2 linked regions of the Homo sapiens genome follow. The protein of the gene in region 2 interacts with the protein of the main gene of each other region in a biochemical or structural test. Each region holds a gene or a part of one and is shown on either strand. Other genes may lie near its edges.

Region 1 (7,029 bases), on a different chromosome or scaffold from region 2:
GATCAACAGCATAAAGTGCTTAAAACAGTGCCTAACACACAGCAAGCACTTTATAAATATTTCCTCTTATTTTTAAGTGTTTTAAGTGTTCAGTTACTTGCCCAGTAATACTTACCTCTTAAATAGTGAAGCTAGGATTCAATTAAAAGTCTGTGTCATGAAATACTGCCCTTCCCAAATCATCCAAGTATTGCATAAATTTGCATTTCTTTAATTACTTATGAGGTTGAAATTGTTCACATTTCTATTCATAATGAAATTTTAAGGCTATTTGGAAACTTCAAGAAAAAACAGAAAAACTAATGTATATTAATGGTAATTTACATATTCAAATTAGCTTCTGTTCTAATTTTATCTTTATTATTCATGGATCTCTGTACCAGACTCTGCGATAAATATGGTTTATCCCTGAGGCTTTCTGTGTAACATCAAAATTAAGTTGCAAAATAATTGTAACTTTGAAAATGAATTACGTATTGACACTTCTCTCCAAACCTAAAGAAAATGAAATGATCTACCTTCTTTAATAATGACCAAATATATGTAACGTGATACCAGAAATGGAATAGCCCAAGTATAGTAAGATAATAGTTCAACACTATGCTAAAAACATATTTCATAGTTTTCACATTCAGGGAAATCAGACATCTTACAGATCAAGTTCTTTAGTGTTCCACTTTCCACTTTCTTATTTACCCACGTGATTCAGCTTGCACATGGAAAAAAGAAAGTAAATGACTGTTAAAGGCAATAAATGTTACACACAAAATCCATTGTGTTTCTACATACCAGCAATGAACTATCCAAAAATTAAATTAAGAAAAACTTCCATGTATAATAGTATCCAAATGAATACAATACCCAGGAATAAATATAACAAAGGAGGTGAGAGACTTGTACACCGAAAACTATAAAACACAAAAACAATGCTGAAGGATATCAAACACACATCCAGGTACTCAAAGACTTAACATTATTAAGATGGCAATACTACCCAAAGCAATCTACAGATTCAATATATTACCTATCAAAATTTCTATGGCCTTTTATGCAGAAATGGAAAAGCTGATTCTCAAATTCATATGGAATTGCAAGGGGCCCTAAACAGGCCAAACAATTTTTAAAAAGAAGAACAAAGCTGGAGAACTCACATTTCCCAATTTCAAAACCTTACCACAAAGCTACAGTAATCAAAACAACATGGCACTGGCATAGTGATAGATATATAGACCAAAGGAGTAGAATTGAGCATCCAAAAATAAACTGATACATCTATAGCCAATTGATTTTAAAGATGCCAAAGACCATTCAATGGCAAAAGAACAGTGTCTTCAACAAGTGGTGCCGGGACAACTATTCACATGCAAGACAATGAAGTTGGAATTTATACCATATACAACAATTAACACAAAATGAATCAGTGACCTAAATATAAGGAGTAAAATTATAAAACTCTTGGAAGAAAACATAGGGTTAATCTTCATGGCCTGGGATTTGGAAATGGATTCTTGATATGACACCAAAAGCATGGGTCAAATAAATAAAATGGACTTCATCAAAATTCAAAACATTTATCTATCAAAGGACATTATCAAAAAATTGAAAAAAAAAATCCACATAATGGAAGAAAACATTTGCACATTATATATTTGATAATGAACAGTCTAGTATCTGGAGTATATAAAAACACAACTCAATACAAAAACACCAACAATGTAGTTTTTTAAAAGGGCAAAGAACTTGAATAGACATTTCTCTAAAGCAGATACACACATGGCCAACAAGCACATGAAAAGATGCTTAAAATCATTAGTAATCTGGGAAACGCAAATCAAAACCACAGTGAGATACCACTTCATACCCATAAGGATGGCAATTATAATTTCTTAAAAACAGAAAATAAGTGTAGGCAAGGATGTAGGGAAATTGGAACCCTCACACATTGCCAGTGGGAATGTAAAATGGTTTAGCTACTGTGGAAAGCAGTTTGGCAGGTCCTCAAAAAGCTAAACAAAATTACCATAAGACCCAGCATTCCATTCTTGGTATATACCCGAAAAAGTGAAAACAGGTTCTCAAATAAATCCTTGGACACAAATATTCACAGCAACATATTCATAATAACTAAAAGGTGGAAACAACCCAAATATCCATCGATGGATAAATGGATAAACAAACTGATATATAGACATGGAAAGGAATATTCTTCTGACATGGAAAGGAATATTCTTCTGCTATGAAAAGGAAAGAAGTACTGATATATGCTACATGTGGGTAAACCTTGAAAACATTTTGCTAAGTGAAAGAAGCCAGGGATAAAAACTCAAATATTGAAAATTCAATTTATATAAAATATCCAGAATAAGTAAATCCATAAAAACAGAAAACAGATGTGGTTGCCATGAGCTAGGGGCATCAGGGAATGACTGCTTAATAGGTATGAGATTTTACTTCAAAGTGATAAAAATGTTTTGAAACTAGACAGAAGTGATGGTTGCACAACACTGCAAAGGTACTAAATGCCACTGAACTATTGCTTTAAAATGGTTAATTACGTGAATTTTTACCTCAATTTTTTTTCCAAAAAAAGCAATTAACATTTATAATCCATGTTGGATAAATGTGGAAATTATAAGCAGCTCTTCCTCTTTGAGGGTCAAAAGAGTAAATGACAAACATAGTAAGTATGCAAATAAAGTATTCTTCAACATTTAATGAGGTGTTTCACATCTAAATAAAGTAGATGTTTCTCCCTCATGACTTCATTCAGAAATATTCATTTATCACCAGCTCCTCACTAGGATTATTTCCCGGTGGAAATTCATTCCCTCTATAAAGTTTACCTGGATATTTCTATCATTAGAAACAGAGCCCGGGCAGGGAGTGGTGACTCACGCCTGTAATCCCAGCACTTTGGGAAGCTGAGGAGGGAGGATTGCTTGGGGCCAGGAGTTTGAGACCATACCAGGTGACAGAAAAAGACGGTCTCTTTAAAAAAACAAAAAAAAAAGAAAGAAAGAAACTGAGCCTGAACTACATTCACTTTCAATCAATTCAAGGTCAACGTATTTCTAACTCCTTAAAAATGATTCTAAGCCAAATTCTTGTAGCTGACCAAGAGCTCTCTTACATCAAAGCGCAAAACATCCCAAAATTTCAGTTTTCTTTTCAGTTTACATTAATGTGGCAATAAACATTTAAATGTTTTAATGTCTGAATATTTCATAATTATTAATATTTAATAATTATTAACTCTATAACCACAAAATTGACAATGTTCCTCAGACTTTATTTCAAAGTTAAAAAGACTGATTTCCTCAGGAAGATCTACATCGTTGAAACAACTAGAAATAACAAATACCTTCCTCAGGGAACACCTTCTCTTAAAAGGAATATAAAGGTAGATATAAAAATGCCTGATTATGTTACTGCCTGCATAAAATTCCTTAACAGATTAAGCAGTTTTCAGAATACAGCTCAGAACTAAACTGTGGTTTAGCACAAAGTTCTTCATAAACTGGCTCGTCTCTGTATATTTAGCTTAGTCCCTTGCCATTCCTCCAGTCTTTTTCTCTGTAACCATGAGCACTTTCTCTTCTCCCAGACTCTCATTATATGCTTCTCTATGCCACCAAAATGCAACACAACTAAATGGTCTGTCACTCCCATTATTCCTTAAGCTCCTTAAAGTTAGGAGCTATACATTTTCTAATTCTGTATACAATACCTAGCATCTAGCACAATATCAGAGGCAAGTGACTGTTGTATAAATTAAAGTATGAAAGTGAGTATTATGATCCATTATTAAGGTCTAAAATACTATGGCTTATTTTTCCTTTACATAATGGCAATGGGGGAAACTATATATTAGGTAATATTTTGCTCTATTTTAAAAAATTACAATGTAATCTTACCGGTAAATAGCATCAACAAATTTTGTAGACATCTTTTCTTAAACATTAGTTTATTAACTAAGAGTATATATTTAGCTTGATGCTTATTCAATGGAAGCTCATGCTTGGCTCTATATTATCTACGTTAGTGAAGTGAAACATTAGTGCAAGAGATATTTTACAAGAAGTCGTAAAAACAGATTTTAACTGGACAATTCCAACTACTTCATTTACAGGTGAGGAAATGAACTGAGAGGTTAAGATATTTATGCAAAATCACCCAGCTAATTAGTGGGAATGTTGGGTGACACCCAGACTCCCATAATGTTGATGCTTTCAGCTACAATATAACTTTATTCCTATTCCAACCTCATAGATAAGCCAGGGGATTCTCTTTTTATTTTTATCTTATTTTATTTTTTTGAGACAGAGTCACGCTCTGTCACCCAGGCTGGAGTACAGTGCCGCGGTCTTGGCTCACTGCAACCTCCGCCTCCCAGGTACAAGCAATTCTCCTGCCTCAGCCTCTCAAGTAACTGGGATTACATGAGCACGCCACCACATCTGGCTAATTTCTGTATTTTAGTACAAATGGGGTTTTACCATGTTGCCCAGGCTGGCCTCGAACTCTGGTCTCAAGTGATCTGCCCACCTCAGCCTCCCAAAGTGCTGGGATTACAGACATGAGCCACAGTGCCCAGCCGGATTCTCTTCTTCTCACCCTCAATCTAGGGGGTATATGGGTCCTTAATACATGCCACATTTAACTGACTCCTTTAATCTTTAAGATGTAGCCTCTGCCTTAACACCTTCTCCCTGTAATAAACATTTGATGAGTACCTACGTTTGTTGAGCATTAAACACATCTAAGCCATTCCACTGGGAGGAAGGGGAAAAGGGAGAGACAAATGCGAATAAGAAAGACATGGTCCCTTCCTTCAAATGCTCTGCAAAATTAGTTACAATCTGGTATAGTATTCATTATTACCATCTGCTTAAATAGGTACAAATACATAGTACGAGAAAAATCTAATTACCGTCTATTATGAAAATGCACCTTATTTCTCCCATTAGCAGATAAGCTCCATGCAGGCAAGGATTTTTCTCTTTAGAACAGTGCCTGACAAAGAAGGTACTCAACAAATATTTGAGTGAATAAATGCTACAGAAAAACCCCTAAGTAGTAGGATCCAAGTAATGTTTCCAAAAATGGTATGACAAGAAAAGTAAACCTTCTTCTCATGCTCAACAACATTTTTCTGTTGGTTTACTGAGAACTTGACAGGAAACTGAAAATAGTTGAGATGGATATATTTTACTACTTAATTCAACATCATGCTCTACCCAATTGTACCAAACCCTAGAAAACCTTCCAAGAAAGGAAACCTACAGTCCTTCTATGACTTAGTCCTGAGCCCTTTTTCAAGTACAAAGGGTCTCCAGATGTTTTCCTTTTTTTCTTATAATAGGTTCTGGGATCTCTGTGTTTGCCCCCCACTTGTGAAGATAATAATACTGGTAACAAAAACATCTCAATTACTATCTATCATGTACCAGACCCTTTTCATATATTAACTCAGTATTTCAAAACAACTCTCAGAATTGGTATTGTCATCAACATGGTTTTACAGAATGGGAAAAATGGTAAGCCTCTTATCCTTTGAGTGTCTTCTTCCACAATCCTGGCTATAAGTAAAATACAATCTCATTAGCTGCACCCTGACTTTCATTGTTGCCCCCCATAACAAGCACACAGAGTCTCTGATTCTAAAGGTTTTGCTATTAACCAATTCAAGGTAACAAAGACAGGATAATAAAAATAACAAATCTGGAGATGTTCAAATGTTCAACAATTCAGCATTCAACATATGTTTATAAATGCCTGGTACCACACAAAAATCAGACTCTCAAAATTCTTACGGTGAGAATCCCTAGCCTCCAATTTACTAGCTATTTTTTGAATAAATGGGAGCCTTGCTAGGTCTAAAAGTTTTTCCTCCCCACTACCTTACCTCCTGATCTCCCAGGACACGAATCAAAATACACTAAAGGGAAAAATAATGGGTGCATCTTCATTGAGAAATCTGTACTTGTGAGTAATTTAAGGAGTCACATCCCTCTTGTGAAACTCTGACCCACAGAGGAGTGGTTACTTTTAGGTCATTTCCTTACAATGTAAGCATTTGTTCTCTTCCCTTTTCATAGAATACACAGAACTTCCAGTTTTCATTCTACATTTCCAAACGTCTGAACAACTCCTCAGCTCCAAAAGTAAACTCCCTATCATCCTCTCTCCTCCTAAATCTCCTTCCACCAAAACCTGTTCTTCATGATAATATCCTTATTTCTGTTAATAACATCACTATCCTCCCAAAAATTTGTCCTAGGCCTATACTCTGGTCAGTTCCCAGTGTCAATGTCATTATAATGTCAACATCTTTCAAATCTATACCTTCACTACGATCATCACTTCTTGCCTCAACTACTATAATTAAATTGCATGGTATTCCTACTTCTAGGCTTCCACTCTTCCATTGGACCTGTTCACAAATTATTATCCATAAAGAGAGTTTCTTCTTAACTAAAAATCATATATAAAATCTTTAGTCTGACATTTAAGAATCTCCATAATCTGTATCCATCTATCTTTACCAGTCTGGTCCTTAAACATATATCCTTACCAAATGTATTCTGCTTTTCCTATCTCTATACCTTTGCTTGGGCAGTGTCCTTATGTGGAACTTTTTTTTTTCCACCCTCCTTCAACTGCTAACAATCTTTCAAATGACCTCATCCTCAATGAAAAAAAAAAAAAGGCTAAGGCATATAATTTACTAAACATATACGCCATCTGATTGCTTCACAAATTATCTGAATCCCCACAAAAACAAGTAAGGAAGGAGTTAAGGAAATTGAGGAGGAGCTTCCCCAAGGTCACCAGCAAGTACGAATCCACAATAGCCCCACAGCATTCCATATTTTTTAATGAAATAAGACACAAAAGAGACAGACGTTCTGTAGTCAGAATACCTGTGATCAAATTCCAGCTACTCCACCAGCTACTTGTGTGAACTCAGAAGTTATGTATCTGTGATGCCTTAATTCCCCCACTTCCCACTTAGAAAATGGGGATAAG
Region 2 (7,029 bases):
GTTTTGTAAGCACATTGCAAATTACCCTTGCAAGCAGAGTAGGTCTCTGGGCTTGAGAAGCCTGTGGGTAAGTCAGTCCAAGTATGCTTATCTGAGATAAGGATGTCCCCATTCGTTCAGTATGCAACCTGAGGTCACCTCTCCTCTGCTCCCCATGAGCATTTTATGCATATATAAATAATACCGCTGCAGCCATAAAAAGGAATGAGATCATGTCCTTTGCAGGAACATGGATGGAGCTGGAAGCCTTTATCCTTAAACTAACGCAGGAGCAGAAAACCAAACACCACATGTTCTTACTTATAAGTAGGAGCTGAACGATGAGAACACATGGACAAAATGGGGGGAAACAACACACCCTTGGGCCTGGTCGGAGAGGGAGAGCATCAGGAAGATTAGCTAATGGATGCTGGGCTTGATACCAAGGTGATGGGTTGATCTCTGCAGCAAACCACCATGGCACCCGTTTACCTAGTTAACAAATCTGCACATCCTGTACTTGCACCCTGGAACTTAAAATCAAAGTTGAAGGGGATGGAAATGGCAGATCACGCCTATAATCTCAGCACTTTGGGAGGCTGAGGAGGGCGGATCGCTTCAGGTCAGGAGTCCAAGACCAGCCTGGCCAACATGGTGAAACCCCATCTCTACTAAAAATACAAAAATTAGCTGGGTATGGTGGTGGGCTCCTGTAATCCCAGCTACTCGGGAGGCTGAGGCACGAGAATCACTTGACCCACTGCACTCCAGCCTGGGCGACAGACTGACATTCCATCTCAAAAAACAAAAAAAAACAGTTGAAGGAAAAATAAATAATTAATAAATGAAACCCCAGGTGAGCTAAGACTAGAAAGACAAACCTACTGCAGGAAACAACCAGAAGAACGAAAAGTCCAACTGGAGCCTGGTAGAGACTCGGGTTGATGCACTTTGGGTCACACACACGTTCCTGTAACTGGCCCCACACTGAAGACCAGACTCAGGTCTTCATTTTCTAGAAAGAGGGTCCAGGAGCTCAGGGGTGGTCCCCATCCCAGCCTGGGATGCCTCCCCCAGAACATGTGCTCTCCTCTGGCAGGTGATGGTGAACGGGATCCTCTTCGTGCAGTACTTCCACCGCGTGCCCTTCCACCGTGTGGACACCATCTCCGTCAATGGCTCTGTGCAGCTGTCCTACATCAGCTTCCAGGTCAGACTGTCCACCTGGCACCGGTCCCAGGGGCTGGGATGCAGGGCCCAGCGTAGCTGTGTCTAAGCCCTGCTGGGTGGGCCCAAGCCAATCTCCTACCCAGGTCACTCTGGGGACAACCTCTGCTTCCCTGTCCCAGTACCTGCCCGCCCCTTCTCCTCTGTCACTCTGCCCCTCCTTCTGTGTTACTGTCTCTGTCCGGAACACCTGCCTTGGTCTCCCAGACTCCTCAGCTGCCCCTTTCTCTTCATCCCTCAGTTTCCATCCTGGTAAGGAGGGCATATTGTTCTAGAAAGAGCCCAGGCTCAAGAACCAAACTGAATCCAGTTCAAATTCCCAGCTCTGCCATTCATCATCTGTGGGATCTTAGACAAGCAACTTCACCTCTCTCAGCCTTGGTTTCTTCATCTGTAGAATGGTCATTGCCTGCCCCCCATGGGTGGTTGTGTGGTTCAGTGAGGAGACAGATATCAGAGGTCACACAGTGGCCCCCCTGGGCCCACACCAGGGTCTGTTTGACCTCTGTGTTTTAACAACTTTGAATGTGTTGCCAACATCTAAAAGGTCAGGAGAGTCAGGTATGGTGGTGGAGGTCTGCAGTCCTGGCTACTCAAGAGGCTGAGGTGGGAGAATTGCTTGAGCCCAGGAATTAGAGTTCTGTCTGGGCAAAACAGCAAGACCCTGTCTCCAAAAAACTTTGTTTAAATAATAAAATAAAATAAATAAAACTAAATAAGGTCAGGAGATACCAATACCATGTGAAAAATGGGAAGATTAGGGTATGCTGGGCCCACATTCCCACAGGGCACCAGCAGCTGGGTGGGAGCTGCTGTTACCCTTTTGGCATTCGAGGCTGCTCCCTGAGATCAGCGAAGCACACAGTAGGCCCTCAGCAAATCTGGGCTTCTCGCCCTTTGGTCCTCATCTCTCATTCCCTCCTTCCCTGACTCTCTCCCCTGCGGGTGGTAGGGGAGGGAAGAGCTGGAGGGAGACCGCACCCCTGCACTGCTCACCAGAGCCTGGCTCTTTCCCATCCCATCTTGGCAGGGCCCTAACCCCCTTGCCTCATCGCCCTGCCTGCCTGGTCTCTCCCTCTTGCCCCTGCCTCTGCCTTTCGGCTTCTCCTTGGCTCTATTAATGCTTCTCCTCACTGCCCGGTGCCTTTTGTTTTAACAGAACCCCCGCACAGTCCCTGTTCAGCCTGCCTTCTCCACGGTGCCGTTCTCCCAGCCTGTCTGTTTCCCACCCAGGCCCAGGGGGCGCAGACAAAAAGTGAGTTCAACACAGAGGCCCTGGGTGGCCGAGCAGACAGTAGGAAGGACCGAGGGTCTGAGAGGCTGGCCCCAGCCAGCAGGCCACTCAGGGCCTACAGGCCGCATCTTGCCCACCCAAGAGTTCCCTGTCTCTGTCCGCTGGGCACCCAGAGCTGGGGACCTGGGGGTCACCCTGGATTCTTCACTCCCTCTTCTTTACGTCTCTCCAAGGCACGAACGTGTCTCCCTCCTGAAGCCACCGATGTGGTCCAGGCCTCTGGGATTCCTCACCATGACGACAGGGGTCCAGTTCCCCACCCCCTACACCCAACCACTGCCACAGTGACCTTCTTATAAGCAAATGTGATCACACCCTCTCCCTGCTTAAAAATCTTCACAGCCCCCAGCCCTTCAAATAAAGCCCAAATTCTCCAGCAGGGTATATGAATTCCTCCCCAGTCTGCCCCAATCCACGTCCCTGCCTCACCCCCAACCCACGAAGCTCACGCAGCCTCTGCAGCTCACTCAAGGCCCTCTTGGGCCACCATGCTTTTGCATATGCTGTCCCTGGTCCCGGAAGCACCCTCTGCCAGCCTGCCTCGAGCACATGCCTAATTGCCCTTCCATGCTCTGCCTAAGTGCCGCTCCTCTGGGAGTCCTCCCCGCCTGGAATATTGTTGGACGCTCCCCTGGTGTCCCCACAGAGTCTGTATGTATCTGTGCCATGCCAGTTCACAGCACCCCATTGTAACTGTATTTGCGTGTCTGTCCCCGTTACTCCACCCCCATGTCCCTATGCCCATGAGGCCCCAGAGGGCCAGGACTGTGGCTTGTTCATTTGCACTGTGCCTGGCACTCAGTAGGGACTCAGTGAATGAATGTGGAATGTGGTTCACACAGCCAGGGAGAATGGGATACCAGCCAGGGCAAGAACAGTCTACTGGGTGGGGCAGGATCCAGGACAAGGAGGTGAGCAGCCCTTCCTCCGGCCACTCAAGTAGTGGGGACTGGGAGGAGGGGCGCTTTGTCTACGCAGTCTTCTTATGGCTCATCACCGTACAGACAGGGCACCTGCCTCCTGCCACGCTGACTTCAGGACTGGTCGAGCCCCAGGGAACATTTGCAGGGCAGCCCAACTTTGGCCCTGGCCCTGGCGCTGGCCCTGGCTCTGGGGAGGATAGAAAGTGTGCTGGATACAGTCAGACAGAACTGGCTGCCACTTTGGATTTGATCCCTTCCACCTTGGCAAGCTTGGGCAAGTTGCTTAATCTTTCTGAGCCTCGTTGCCTCACTAGGGACACAGGAGCTGAGGCTGCTTCCCTTGTTGGAAAGCACTGAAGCCCAGGAATCGACCCACAATAGGCCTTCAACAAATACCACTTCTCACCTTATGGGTGAAATATGGCACTGGAAGTAATGCTCTTCGCTGTGGGAGCTACAGAAAGCAATGAGGTCTCTATCAAACCCAGTCTCCTCTCTCTCGAGAGGAACCAGTGGGGATACCCTACCCCCCAACCCCAAAGCCCTGTACACCTGGGGGTAAAAATCTGGGTGCCACGGGCTCAGGAAGGCTTGCTTGGGAGCAAGAGGGAGGTGGGTGTGTCCGGGGAGGCATTTCTGAGCACAAGAGCCTCCCTGGAGTTTTGCCACCATCTCCTCCCATTCTGTGGTGCCCGCGATAACCACCATTCTGACTCTCCTCACCCCTCCAGCCTCCCGGCGTGTGGCCTGCCAACCCGGCTCCCATTGTAAGTCTCTTGCTTTCTTTTTGGATCGTCCTCATTTTGGCTTTTCTGGGCTCATGGAGGAGGCAGGGCCAGGCATTGGGCCTCTCCCATTGGGAGTGGGGAGGGCACAGACCAGACCCTTGACCATCTGCCCGGCCTGGTGAGGTTGGGGGTTGGATGTGGGGGTTGGATGAAACAACCTGAGTTGCCACCCCGTGGGCAGCCACGGAAGACCATGCCCCACATTCACTTCTGTCACCTGCAAAGGGAGGCTAGGCTGAGAGACGTTTCCCCGAGAGGAAAGATGGGCCAGAGCCACCAGCGTCCCCATCTGTCTTCTCCAGGGTTCTAACCTTTGCCCCTCGCTCATCCCCTTGAGAGAAGAGACACCTGGGCCCACCCTCTGTGGGGTCTGTGGGGCCATTGGGCTTGTTACGCCCCCTGGAGGGTGCCTGCCGTGTGGCGCCCTCTGGTGGGAGCTGGTGGTTTTCACACGTGAGAGCCTGGGTGAGACCTGGTTTCTTTCTTCCAGACCCAGACAGTCATCCACACAGTGCAGAGCGCCCCTGGACAGATGTTCTCTGTAAGTCTACAAGTTCTGGTCAGTTCACAGCTGCACAGTGTCCTCCTTCACCAAAAACTAAACTCCCTAGAGCCCTAGAGTCGGGAAGAAAGCGGTTTAGCAAGGAGGATGGGGACACTAGGGGCTGAGTGCTTGGCTCAGGTGACATGTGGCTAAAGCTGTCCTTGGGACAGCAGAGATTCTGGAAGAAGCAGGGTTTATCCAGTGGTGGAAGAGACAAGTCCCCTAGAGACCGGGAGGGAAACTGGTCCATCTGTCACCAAGTGGGGAGTACAGTGGCCCCAGCACCCGGATGTGAGGTTCCTGGCCCTGCATCCTGGGTCCCCAGGATGTCACTATTGATCACAGGCTTAAGCTCTTCTCCTGATGGTGCAAATGAGGCAGGGGGGCTTAGAATTAGTGGGGCTGCCTGCGGAGGGGTTGAGGGGCAGGTGACCGTGGTGTGGTCTGGGAACACGGCAGGAAGTTCCAGGAAGGCTAACATGAAAAGGGAGGTAGACGGGCGAGTCCAAGGGCCAAAGGCTCACGAGGTCAGCCTCACAGTGGAGTCCTCTCTAGAACGCGTGGGTGCGCCTGGGTGAGTGCTCGCGCACCCATGTGCTCTCCCATTGAATTTCCTGGTTTCTTTTCAACAGACTCCCGCCATCCCACCTATGATGTACCCCCACCCCGCCTATGTAAGTGGTTTCTCAGGGAGGGCAGAGGTTCTGTTTGTGGTGGGCAGGCTGGGGGTGAAGGGCCGCTGTGGGGGGATCCACTGGCCTTGAAAAATTAAAAGCAGTCATTTGTTAAGCTGAAGGGCTTCAAAGCATCCCAGCGAATTAGAAGGCTGTGGAGAGGAGCTTTCAACCTTAAAACTGTCGTGTCAATATGAGCACATTGCATGTCCCTCCCTTTTCACCCCACGAAACGAGTCTTTTTGTGTTTGGCCAAAGTTCCTTTCATGACACTAATCTAAGCCCATTAATTTGAGGAGCACTGGAAAGTTTTCCTTTGGCTTTTATGGAACCAAGTAAAGATATCATGGGCTTCTTCTCAGCTGACAGCCCAAATTCATGGGAACTGGTACAATCTTCCCCTTCCGCGTGGTGGCTGACCTGTCCCCCTTCTTCCGACAGCCGATGCCTTTCATCACCACCATTCTGGGAGGGCTGTACCCATCCAAGTCCATCCTCCTGTCAGGCACTGTCCTGCCCAGTGCTCAGAGGTAAGCCAAGGGCTCCAGTGACCTCTGGGAAGAGAGAGCCCTTCAAGGTCAGTCCAGCCATTCCCCTGGCTTCAGGAAGGCTACTGATGATGGGGAGGAAATGGGACTCAGAATTCGGTGGATAAAGGTTCAGGTGGGCTGCCCACCCCAGGTTCCACATCAACCTGTGCTCTGGGAACCACATCGCCTTCCACCTGAACCCCCGTTTTGATGAGAATGCTGTGGTCCGCAACACCCAGATCGACAACTCCTGGGGGTCTGAGGAGCGAAGTCTGCCCCGAAAAATGCCCTTCGTCCGTGGCCAGAGCTTCTCAGTAAGGCACCGCAGTCTGGAGCTTGGAGAGGCTCCCATGGGTGCACAGGGGGAGGGGGTAAAGGAGGTTTGAGGTACCTTGAACAGTATGGGGGCTGATTCCTCTGGGATGAAGGCCCAAAAGAAGAGAAGGTGGCCAACAAATTATTATTATTATTACTGTCCCGCATGAAGGAAGTGCTGGGATCTGCTTTTTCAGATGAGGAAACAAACTCACAAGTGCAGGTTACTTGCTTGTGGTCACACAGTCAGTAAGTGTCAAATCAGACCCAAGAAGGAGGTGTTATTCATTTCTTCATTTACTCAACAACCATTTTCTTGTCGCCTGCTTTGCGCAGGAAGCACCCCACATGCTGGGGGCACAGTCATGAAGCACACAGACAGGGTCCTGCCTCCAGGGAGTTTATAATTTAGGTGGGGAAAGAACAAGGAAAGTAAAGCATGGACAGATTGTCACAGATAACGACAGTGCCACGCACAAAGCAAAACAGAGCGATGAGATAGAGCGAGCCTGGGAGGGGCAGCTAGGGCCAACGTGCAGAGGCACGGGTGTGGCCTGTCCAGGAACAGCAGGCAGGCGTGCTCCACCCTGACTACATATTCAAATCACCCAGAGAGCTTACAAAGGAAATATCAGTGCTGGGACCCCAGCCCAGGCCAATGAGGCAGTCAGCTGGGCATTCGTATTTTAAAAATATGCCTTAAGTGATTATACTCTGCAGTCAGAGTTGAAAATGACTGATGTAGGGCTTTGCAG

What was found. The genes of interacting proteins can lie anywhere in the genome.
Region 1: the proteins of LGALS9 (region 2) and RNF13 form a complex in vitro, tested with the Homo sapiens proteins (one study listed by BioGRID).

Annotation. Positions count from the first base shown.
Region 1 is NC_000003.12:149,816,198-149,823,226, reverse strand, and holds part of RNF13 (E3 ubiquitin-protein ligase RNF13 isoform 1 precursor), read right to left. Parts: intron 5,941-7,029; exon of another isoform or gene 654-5,940; intron 1-653. UniProt on the Homo sapiens protein: E3 ubiquitin-protein ligase that regulates cell proliferation. Involved in apoptosis regulation. Mediates ER stress-induced activation of JNK signaling pathway and apoptosis by promoting ERN1 activation and splicing of XBP1 mRNA.
Region 2 is NC_000017.11:27,641,160-27,648,188, forward strand, and holds part of LGALS9 (galectin-9), read left to right. Parts: intron 1-1,078; coding exon 1,079-1,189; intron 1,190-2,365; coding exon 2,366-2,461; intron 2,462-2,673; coding exon of another isoform or gene 2,674-2,799; exon of another isoform or gene 2,800-2,876; intron 2,877-4,154; coding exon 4,155-4,190; intron 4,191-4,701; coding exon 4,702-4,752; intron 4,753-5,387; coding exon 5,388-5,429; intron 5,430-5,870; coding exon 5,871-5,959; intron 5,960-6,110; coding exon 6,111-6,273; intron 6,274-7,029. UniProt on the Homo sapiens protein: Binds galactosides. Has high affinity for the Forssman pentasaccharide. Ligand for HAVCR2/TIM3. Binding to HAVCR2 induces T-helper type 1 lymphocyte (Th1) death.